2 separate regions of the Homo sapiens genome follow, and region 2 is linked to region 1. The links come from fine-mapping of genetic effects on gene expression. A gene starts in region 1. The other region holds a variant in brackets. All regions are shown on one strand. Distances are between the middles of the regions.

The links. PIP is the estimated chance that this variant, and not a neighbour inherited with it, causes the effect.
Region 2: its variant is the best candidate, but not a certain one, in a credible set for the expression of GID8 in tibial nerve (GTEx, PIP 0.68).

The regions. Positions count from the first base shown.
Region 1 is chr20:62,935,732-62,940,113 of GRCh38, forward strand. It overlaps GID8 (GID complex subunit 8 homolog), which reads left to right and starts at 2,416. Exons shown (of 5, transcript NM_017896.3): 1 at 2,416-2,522. It also overlaps a transcript of DIDO1 not described here. RefSeq lists silencers at 1,617-1,666, 1,937-1,986, 2,357-2,586, 2,657-2,786 and an enhancer at 2,482-3,150.
Region 2 is chr20:62,893,621-62,898,002 of GRCh38, forward strand. DIDO1 (death inducer-obliterator 1) reads right to left here. Exons shown (of 16, transcript NM_001193369.2): 7 at 2,911-3,376; 8 at 2,613-2,772; 9 at 1,429-1,545; 10 at 1,190-1,294; 11 at 793-928; 12 at 46-574. Among named protein-coding and RNA genes, the nearest start is that of SNORA117, 13 kb to the left of the region's middle. The variant T/C (reference allele first, on the strand shown) is at 2,508.

The DNA.
Region 1 (4,382 bases):
TCCCCAAGGGATGTTAGAAGGATAGAGTCAATGAGTGATGGCTTTTGGAGAGATCACCCTGTCTGCTATGTGAGAGGTAGTGACAGGACTTCTGGAGCTCAACAGGAGTTACGGAGACATCCTGGCAATCCAAAAAGCAAAGATGATGGCTTCCACGTTATGGTGGAAGAGGCTGGGAAACAACACAAAGGAGCCAGTTTCTAGAGAGGATTAAGGAGGGGGCTCGAGCAGGACTTGGTAACCGGTTGGCTGTTGGGAGGAGGAGCATTAACCTGTGACCCACAGGCAGGCACTGAGACAGCCTCTTTGGACTGGAATGTTAAGGAATGTCGCCTTAAGGCGCTAGCACTCAAGCTTTCTGCTCGTGCATCCCCTTGCACACTTTCTCCTTGACGTTCAGGCTGGGCATGGTGGCTGACGCCTGTAAACCCAGCACTCCCAGAGGCCGAGGCGGGAGGATGGCTTGAGCCCAGGAGATCGAGACCAGCCTGGGCAAGAAGGCAAGACCCCGTCTCTAAAAAACTTTAAAAAATAAAAATAGGCCGGATGCGGTGGCTCATGACTGTAATCCGAGCACCTTGGGAGGCCGAGGTGGGTGATCATTTGAGGTCAGGAGTTCGAGACCAGCCTAGCCAACATGGTGAAACCCCACCCGTACTAAAAATACAAAATAAGTAGCCGGGCGTGGTGGCGGGTGCCTGTAGTTCCAGCTACTCGGGAGGCTGAGGCAGGAGAATCACTTGAACCCAGGAGGCGGAGGTTGCAGTGAGTCGAGATCATGACAGTGCACTCCAGCCTGGGCAACAAAGTGAGACTCCTTCTCAAAAAATAGAATAAAATAAAATCAAAATAGGCCGGGAGCGGTGGCTCACGCCTGTAATCCCAGCACTTTGGGAGTCCGAGGCGGGCGGATCACGAGGTCAAGACACTGAGACCAGCCTGACCAACAAGGGGAAACCCCGTCTCTACTAAAAATACAAAAATTAGCTGGGCGTGGTGGTGCGCCCCTGTGGTCCCAGCTACTCGGGAGGCTGAGGCAGGAGAATCGCTTGAACCCGGGAGGCGGAGGTTGCAGTGAGCCGAGATGGCGCCACTGCGCTCCAGCCTGGGCGAGAGTGAGACTTCGTCTCAAAATAAATAACTAAATAAAGACCAATAACTGTTTCCCATAGGGTTATGTAGTTGCAAATGAAAAAATTACTGGCATGTACTGCCTCTGCATATGAAGCATAATTTTGTCAAGACCTTATACCTGCAGATTTAGCTCTTTCGATTAACGGAAAATGTCCAAAATCAGTCTCCTCCAACCTATTTGCCGAACTGGACTTACTGTCGCTGAGTAGACCGACCGACATAGCTTACACGTTGTTCAGCTCGCTTGTAAGCAAACACACGAAACCACCTCACCCCTGACTTCAGAAAGAAGCCGTCCCGTGAATTCCTCACAGATGAAATCAGGAGCTGCCCCTCAAGGACTCTATTTCTTCCTTCGGCTCTATCAAATATTTTAAGGTACTTCCCAGCAACGGAAACATGGGACCCTGCAATGACAGACTTCGCATTCCTCCTGAGCGGACAGGCAATAAGCAAGTAAACGCGCAAATACCCAAGTGCGGCCTCAACCCGCGCTCCTGCCGGGAGGGTCTCCAGTCACCGAGTAACCCCGGCCCTGCCCCGCGCCGCCGCCGGGACTCCGCCCCGCAAGCAAGTGGGGTCTCCTTTGTCCCGCGCGCCCTGGCCGCGTCCCGCCCTTCGGCGTAGCCCATGGGAGGCGCCCTGAGGGCAGGGCCCTTCTGATTCCCCACCTGGCCTCGAGTGAGGACGCGCTCAACAACATCTCGAGTAAAGCGGGGGAACTCGCTTCAACGCGCAGACAGCACAGCTCTCGCCCAGCCCGGTCTCGGGTCAGCCGTCTCTCCCTGGACCTCAGGGACACTAGCCCTGGAAGGCCGCCGGTCGGGAGGGGACTCCCTCCCCGTCTGAGGGGCGGCCGCGGACACCCGGCGCCTTTCCCCCGCCCCACCCCGTGCGGCCTCACGCAAACGACAGGAAAAAAGCTGGGACCTTCGCCTCCGACTCAGTGTAGACGTCGCCATCCCGGTTCCAGATTTCCGCGCTCCAACGCCTCCGCAGCAGCCATCTTGCCAGAGGGCCGACGCCTTTTGACTCTGGCGCCAACCCGTAGTGCGTGGTCGCCGCGAGGGGAGTTCTGCGCAAGTACGGAAGCTGAGGTTCCGCGCTTCCGGGAGGCCGTCCGCCCCGCCCCCTCGCGGGGGCGCTTCATTGGTCATCGGCTCGCGCTCTCGCGCTCTCTTGCTGTCGCGAGAGGTGCTGAGGGGCGGCCTCCGGTGCGCCTGCCCTCCCGCTCCCCGCCCCCGCCCCCGCCCCCGCCTCCGCCGCGGCCCCCACCTCTGCCTCCTTCTACTCGGGCGCCCCGGCGGCCGCCACCTCTCCCCAGCCCAGGAGAGGCTGCGGAGCCGCAGCCGCCCAGACCGCGCAGCGCGGGAGGCAGGTTCCGCACGGTAAGATGGCGGCGGCGGGCCCGGGCGGCCGGGCCGAGCGTCTCCCGGGGCCGGGCCGGGCGGGCAGGCGGGATGTGGCCGGGGTGCGCGCCGCCCCCGCTCTGGGGGCCTTGGAAGCGCCGGCGCTGGCAGGTGCGGAATTGGGGCGCGCAGTGAGTCCAGGCCCGGACGGCCGCCCCGCGCCGGTGCCCAGGGGGCAGTCAGGGCTCAGCCTCCAGGCGCGCGGCCTCAGGCGCTGGTGTTCTGGGGCGGTCCCGGCCAGCCTGAGGGGCGGCGGTAGCTGTCTCTGTGGAGGAGCGACGTCCGTAACGAAGTCTTTTTAATAAAATCTGCTGCTTTAAAGCAGAAACCGAGCGGGTGAGGATGTAAAGTGTGGCATGGAAAGTAGGAGTCTTCAGCACACGGGTGTTTTCTTCTGCTGAATCTTTTTATGCTGGAGTTTGAGACTACCGAGTTCTTCCTGCTAACAGGACTGGCCAGTTCTACAAAGTTGTTGCTTTTCATGGGCGCACGTAACTGCCCGGAGTGGAAGCGCTGTGAGTGCCGATCACCGAATGGGCCGAGAGAAAAGGTGCCTTTTCCTAGGGAGCTCTTAACGTTGGTCCTAGGGCCGGGCGCGGTGGCGGAGGTCGAAGTGGGCGGATCACTTGAGCCCGCGAGTTCGAGACCAGCCGTGGCAACAGCGAGACTCCCTTCTCTGCTAAAAATAAAAAAATTAGCCAGGCAGAGTGGTGCGCTCCTGTTGTCCCAGTTACTCTGGAGGCTGAGGTGGGAGGATCGCTTGAGCCCAGGAGGTCGAGGCTGCGGTGAGCCATGATCGCGCCACTGCCCTCCAGCCTGGGCGACAGAGCGAGGCTCTGTCTCAAAAAAAAAAGAAAAAGAAAATGAGTCCTTAAGTTACCATTAATTGTCGTGAATAAAAAGTTGGTCTCAGTGAGTTTTGCAGTTGACAACGAAAGATGGGTGTTCGTGTGTGACAGCGACTCCTGGTTTCTCCTCCACTTTACCTGCCGCTCCACATCAAGTTTTCTTCTGCTGGTGCCACTTTCTCTGCTTTACCTTCAAGGTTGGCATCCTCCAAGTAATGGCGATTCTCATTCCCTATCTACGCTCTTCCTATGGTCTTTGCTGAATTCTTGGCTTTAAATATCCCTGTGCCCCAGCACCGCCCCCCCCGCCCCTTATTTCACTAATTCATGTTTTCAGCTCTGAGCTCAGGATCTGTAATTCAGACACCTGCTTGATTTCTCCAGACGCATGTCTAATAGTCACGTCAAACTTGCCCTGCTTCTCAAACCTGTTCTTCTTCCAGTCCTTCCTCCTTATTTGTGGCCCCATCTTGCAGGGCCTCTCATGCTTGAAACCTGTGACCATCTTCTATTCTTCCCTCTCTTTTGTCCGGTAATCTGTCTAGCAGCAGCCATTGACTCTGGCCAAAGCATCTTGATCTCACCTTGCTCTCCATCTCTTCTGCCGATGTTCTCTCTCGCTTGGGTGTCTCCCTAAGGGACTGGCTGCTCAGATCTCACCACCCTGCATTCATCCCATTTTCAGCCAAGAGACCAAAGTTTTTTAATTTATTGAAACACTTTAGCAGTACTTCGTATAAAGTAGTATGTGTAACGTATGTATCAGTGGCAAAAGAGAAAGACAGAGTGGACGGTGGCGTGCCCCTGCCTGTCTCAGGTATCCACCCATTCTCCCAAAGCCGGAACAGCTGCCTCTGGGGCTTCAGCCATTTGCCCCTCCCACAGGTAACCCCCTCCTGAGTGTCAGCTTTCATGCCCTTATTTAAAAAAAAACAAACAAAATAGGTTTGCCACGTACATATTTGTTGCTAAAGCACATGTCATGTATTTT
Region 2 (4,382 bases), 42 kb before region 1:
TAAAAAAAAAGTTTGGCTTGTTCAGACCACACCTGAAGTACGCACCTGATATTTGGTGACGGAGGAACTGACAGGTATCTTGGGTCAGGAGATGAGGATGGCTTAGCTAGTATGGACTTGGGCACCATCACAGAAGTCAAGACAGGCTTCGGCACATCCTGTCTGGCTTCCACCATGTGGGTGCTGTCTGGGCGGGATGCTGCGGAGGCCACGGCTGTGCATGAACTGCTTGGAGCGGTCCTGGGGTCCCGGCCGGACACTGTGACGGTGGTGACCACCCCGCTCCCACAGGAGGCTGGGCAGGGGGACAGGTCTTCCAGCGGGGAGGGCTCGGGATGGCCATCTCCTGGAGGCCCAGGGAAATACGTTCTGTCCACATTTGGATGAGAAGCACTTTCTAGGCCTGGCTCAGAGGCAACTTCAGGCACAGCCTCCGGCATCACCTCATCAGCTGAATCCGGAGCTGGGTCAGGTGCAGAGCTGTCATGCTTTGATTTTAAGTCTTCTTTCTTAACAGAAGCTGACAATTTTTGTTTTTTCGGAGCTGGCTCATCTTCTGCGGAGGGAACCTGGCCTGAAGAAGGCGAGGAAAGGCTCTGTGAGAAACCCAGCCGGCACACTGGTGTTTCTCACACAAAGCCGAAAGCAATACTCTAAAGGCAGGGCAGGAAATCATTCTGGCCCTTCTGCGTGTTTAAGCTTACGTGCGGTTGCTTTTAGGAGGTTCAGTGATTTTTAACAAAATCAAGTTTAGTCTCAGCTCCAAGGCTCCATCCCCTGCACTGTGCTCACCTGTGCAAATTTTACAGTTGAGATCGAAGAGGTGTGCGCGGTGCTGACTGGTGGTGTCTTTCAACATGCTGCTGAAGACGTCGAGAAGCGGCGCTGTGCTCTTCTCAGGGACAGCACGTGCTGACTCTTGCTGTTCCTAAAAAAGAAAAAGAAAAAAAAGTGAGGTCGTTTCTTCTCCAAACTCAGCTCCAAATTAACCACACACAAGAAAAGCAGTCTCATGGGATTGAGACCCACGGGGGAGAAAAAAGGACCATCTAATACAAGGACTGAGGAATGCCACAATGACATACACCTGCTGTAAGCTCAGGTCCTGCCCAATAATTTAAGATAACCTCAAAACATTTGGGATGGATTAGTCTATTCTCGGTGAACACAAAATCTCCCAAATGCTTACCTCTGAATCCGACACTGGCGGAGAGTCCTCCAGATCGGGGATGGCCTCCTGCCTGGGGGCCGTCTTCTTGCTTTCATTGTGCAGTTTAGTTCTGGACTCCATCACCTGAAATGAAAAAGACGAAACAGAGCTTAGGCCTTGTTTTCTAGGAGGAAAGCATCGCTTATGCAGCCGTCTATGAATTTATTTCTATTAAGCTCGAGTCCTGGGTGCCTCCGCAGGTACCCCTCAGCACTCACAGATCTCGCTGGCCTCTCTTTCCACGTGGAAAGCTCTTTAGATACAAGTTCTTCTGGCTTCAGTCTCACAAGTTTCGCCAAAGAGATTTCCTCACGCAGAACACGATGGAAGAGTCCCTATAAACAAGTATTTTTCATTTACTCAAATAATATTCCTATATCTGTCAATACAGAGAGCTTCTGGAAAACACAGCTGCCCAGAAGTTTAGCGGGCACAGGACAAAGGCCCTCAGGGCCCACTTGCGTGTGGCACTGGGCAGAGCCCTCCCTGCAGGGTGTGACCTAACTCCCCAAACGGCCTTATGAGAGTGCGCCCCAGGATATCCCTGCTGTGAGCAAATGGGAGCCCAGAGAGCACAGGTAATAAGGTTCAACAGTGGGTTTCACGGCCTGTGCTGCACTGGCTCTGCTAAAAAAAAAACAACACACAACACCTCAGGAAAAACAATTATGTACACAAGGTGGACACAAGTCAAAAAGGTAGCGTCAGGAACAAAGGAAGGAAGAAATCATTTCTGTTTAGGGCTGTTCAATGGTGAGATGCAAAGTCAGGGTATTTCATTATCCTAAAATTCTAAACAGGGAGGAGCCTGGAGGCCGATGGAGAGAGAACACCACAAGGCTGTCAGCCCGGCGGCCTATCCCTCCCAGCTGGAGTTTCTGTCCTCGTCGCATGGCCCATGCTGCAGTGAGGAAGGACTGATCCCACTACCTGGGCGTGAGCAGCCCCTGCTCCAAGTGGTGAGAACTCAAGCAGCCCAAACCATCAGGCTCACTCGGCTGATGAGGAATATGAGAAAATAAGGTGGAAAAGGCTGTCTGAGGCCGGAATACGGACACCCTCATACACTGGGATGAAGAACTGGACTTTATTTTGGAGCCCAGTGAAGCGACTGGCTTGTACCTTTACAGCAATGTTTACAGGAGACTAATGTGGTGATAAAAGGTGGACTTCAGGGAAGCCAGGAAGCGGACGCGACCCTAGTTAAGGCAGGGAAGGGAAGGGGTTTCCAGGACGCTCAACGCCAGTGCAACAATACGTGGGCGGCAGAAGGATCACAGAGGAGAAAGAAACGTCT[T/C]AGCTTTCCTGGAAAGGACACGAACATCTCAAAATATTGGTTGATCCCTTTAGCACCCAGCGAACAGAACAGGAATACTCCAATGCACCGACACCAGGCACACACCTGATTTTTAGGGTCCTTCAGGTTGAACATGATGCTGCGATATTTACTCTTGTAGCGATTATCTGTAACTTGAAACAAGTTAAACATCTCCTTCTCAATATGGAGGGCAATTTTTCCTACTTCGTTTTCTGTCATGATTAAGTCATCGCTGTCATTGACTCTGAACAGAATAAAAAAAAGGAACTACATAAGACACTTGTGTATATTAAACTTTTTGAACAGTGAGGCAATCCTGCAGCCACACTCTAATGAAAGCCCTTCCATTTTAATGGGTAAGAAATCAAGCAGAACAGCCCACCTTTTCCACAAAATCTCTTTTAAGGAGCGTCTGATATTTTGCCGAATTTGTGAATTTGGCTGCGATGGTGCAGCACTCATAGCCCCAAGGCGTCCTGGGGCTGGCGAGGCCATTGGAACAGAAGGTACCACTGGCTTCCTTACGGCTCCCACCAAAGCAGCGGAGCCAGGGAACTTCTTGGAGGCAGCCGTTGCCGCTGCAGGTGCCGGTCCGGCCTGCCTGGCAGCTGAAGCACCACTCGATGGGGTAGCGGAGAGCCATGGCCTCTTGGGGATGGTGCCCTTGAAACCTGAGGGTGGCTTTTTAATGGCTGGTGTGGCTGCTGCCACATTAGCAAAAGAAGACTTCTTTGGCACGAGGTTTCTAGGTGCAGGCTGCTTGCCCACCGCGGAGCCTGGAGGGGCTGTTTTCTTTGAGGCTGCCATGGCTGCCGCTTTCTCCTCGGACCTCCTGTCTTCCTTCGTGGCTACAAAGAAGAACACAGGCGCTGAGTAAGGGAGGACACCACAGGGTGCTGTCACCTGACTCTAAAAAGCAGACTTACCCTTAAACCTGTAAGTGCCCACCTGGCATTACTGAATAGGATACACATAGAGAAAAGGATTTGTAAAATGTTAGTGTTCAGAGGAGTGTAAGGGAGGACCGCCAGCAGCATTTATGACGGTGACTACATTTTATTTCAGAAAGAAGAATGCTTTATTATTCTATCTTTTACCTTCAACCAGCAAACTCTAGTTATTAAAGGCTTGACTTGCGCACTAGCTAAGCTTCAAAGCTGAAGGACAATTTCCTATCATCACTTTTTAAAAGGCAGATTTACAGCAGCACTATCATTATGAATTCAAGTGCAAACTGTTTGTAAACTTCAGTGAAAAAGACCGTTTAGAAGCGTAAAACAGGCTCTCTTAGCCCGGTGGGTGGGGTTTACACATCTCACTTCGTTGTCCTTCCAGACTGGAGTCCATTGGAGGCGATGCCATTAATAAAAATATGGAAAGCTGGCATACACCTGAACCACAGGAAGAGCAGCCACACCTTTACGTGAAGAGTGAGAAGCTGAGAACGCAGCAATGCTGTTACAGGAATGCGTCCATTCACAGCCCTCAGGCTGTAATTCCATTAAGTGAAGTATGAATCCAAACAAGGATTATAATTAAAAGCTCAAAGACATCAAACCCCCTCAACTTGCACAAAAAGCTTTCTATGTCAGTAGAGAATCAATCACCTTATAACCCCATGTGAGATCGTCAGAGCCCAAAGGCCCTCGAGCAGGGGACAGACGGCGTGCCAGGGGACAGATGGCCAGGGGACAGGGCTCGTTGAGGTGCACCGCATGCCGGGGCAGGGATCCAGCTAGTGGAGCAGAGTGAAACGCCTGGGGAATAGGGGGCCCCCATGAGGGCCCCAGGATGGCAGAGGCCATCTCAGCTCTACAGGCAAGTGCCTGGGAGCTACCTCGGGTGATCAAGTCA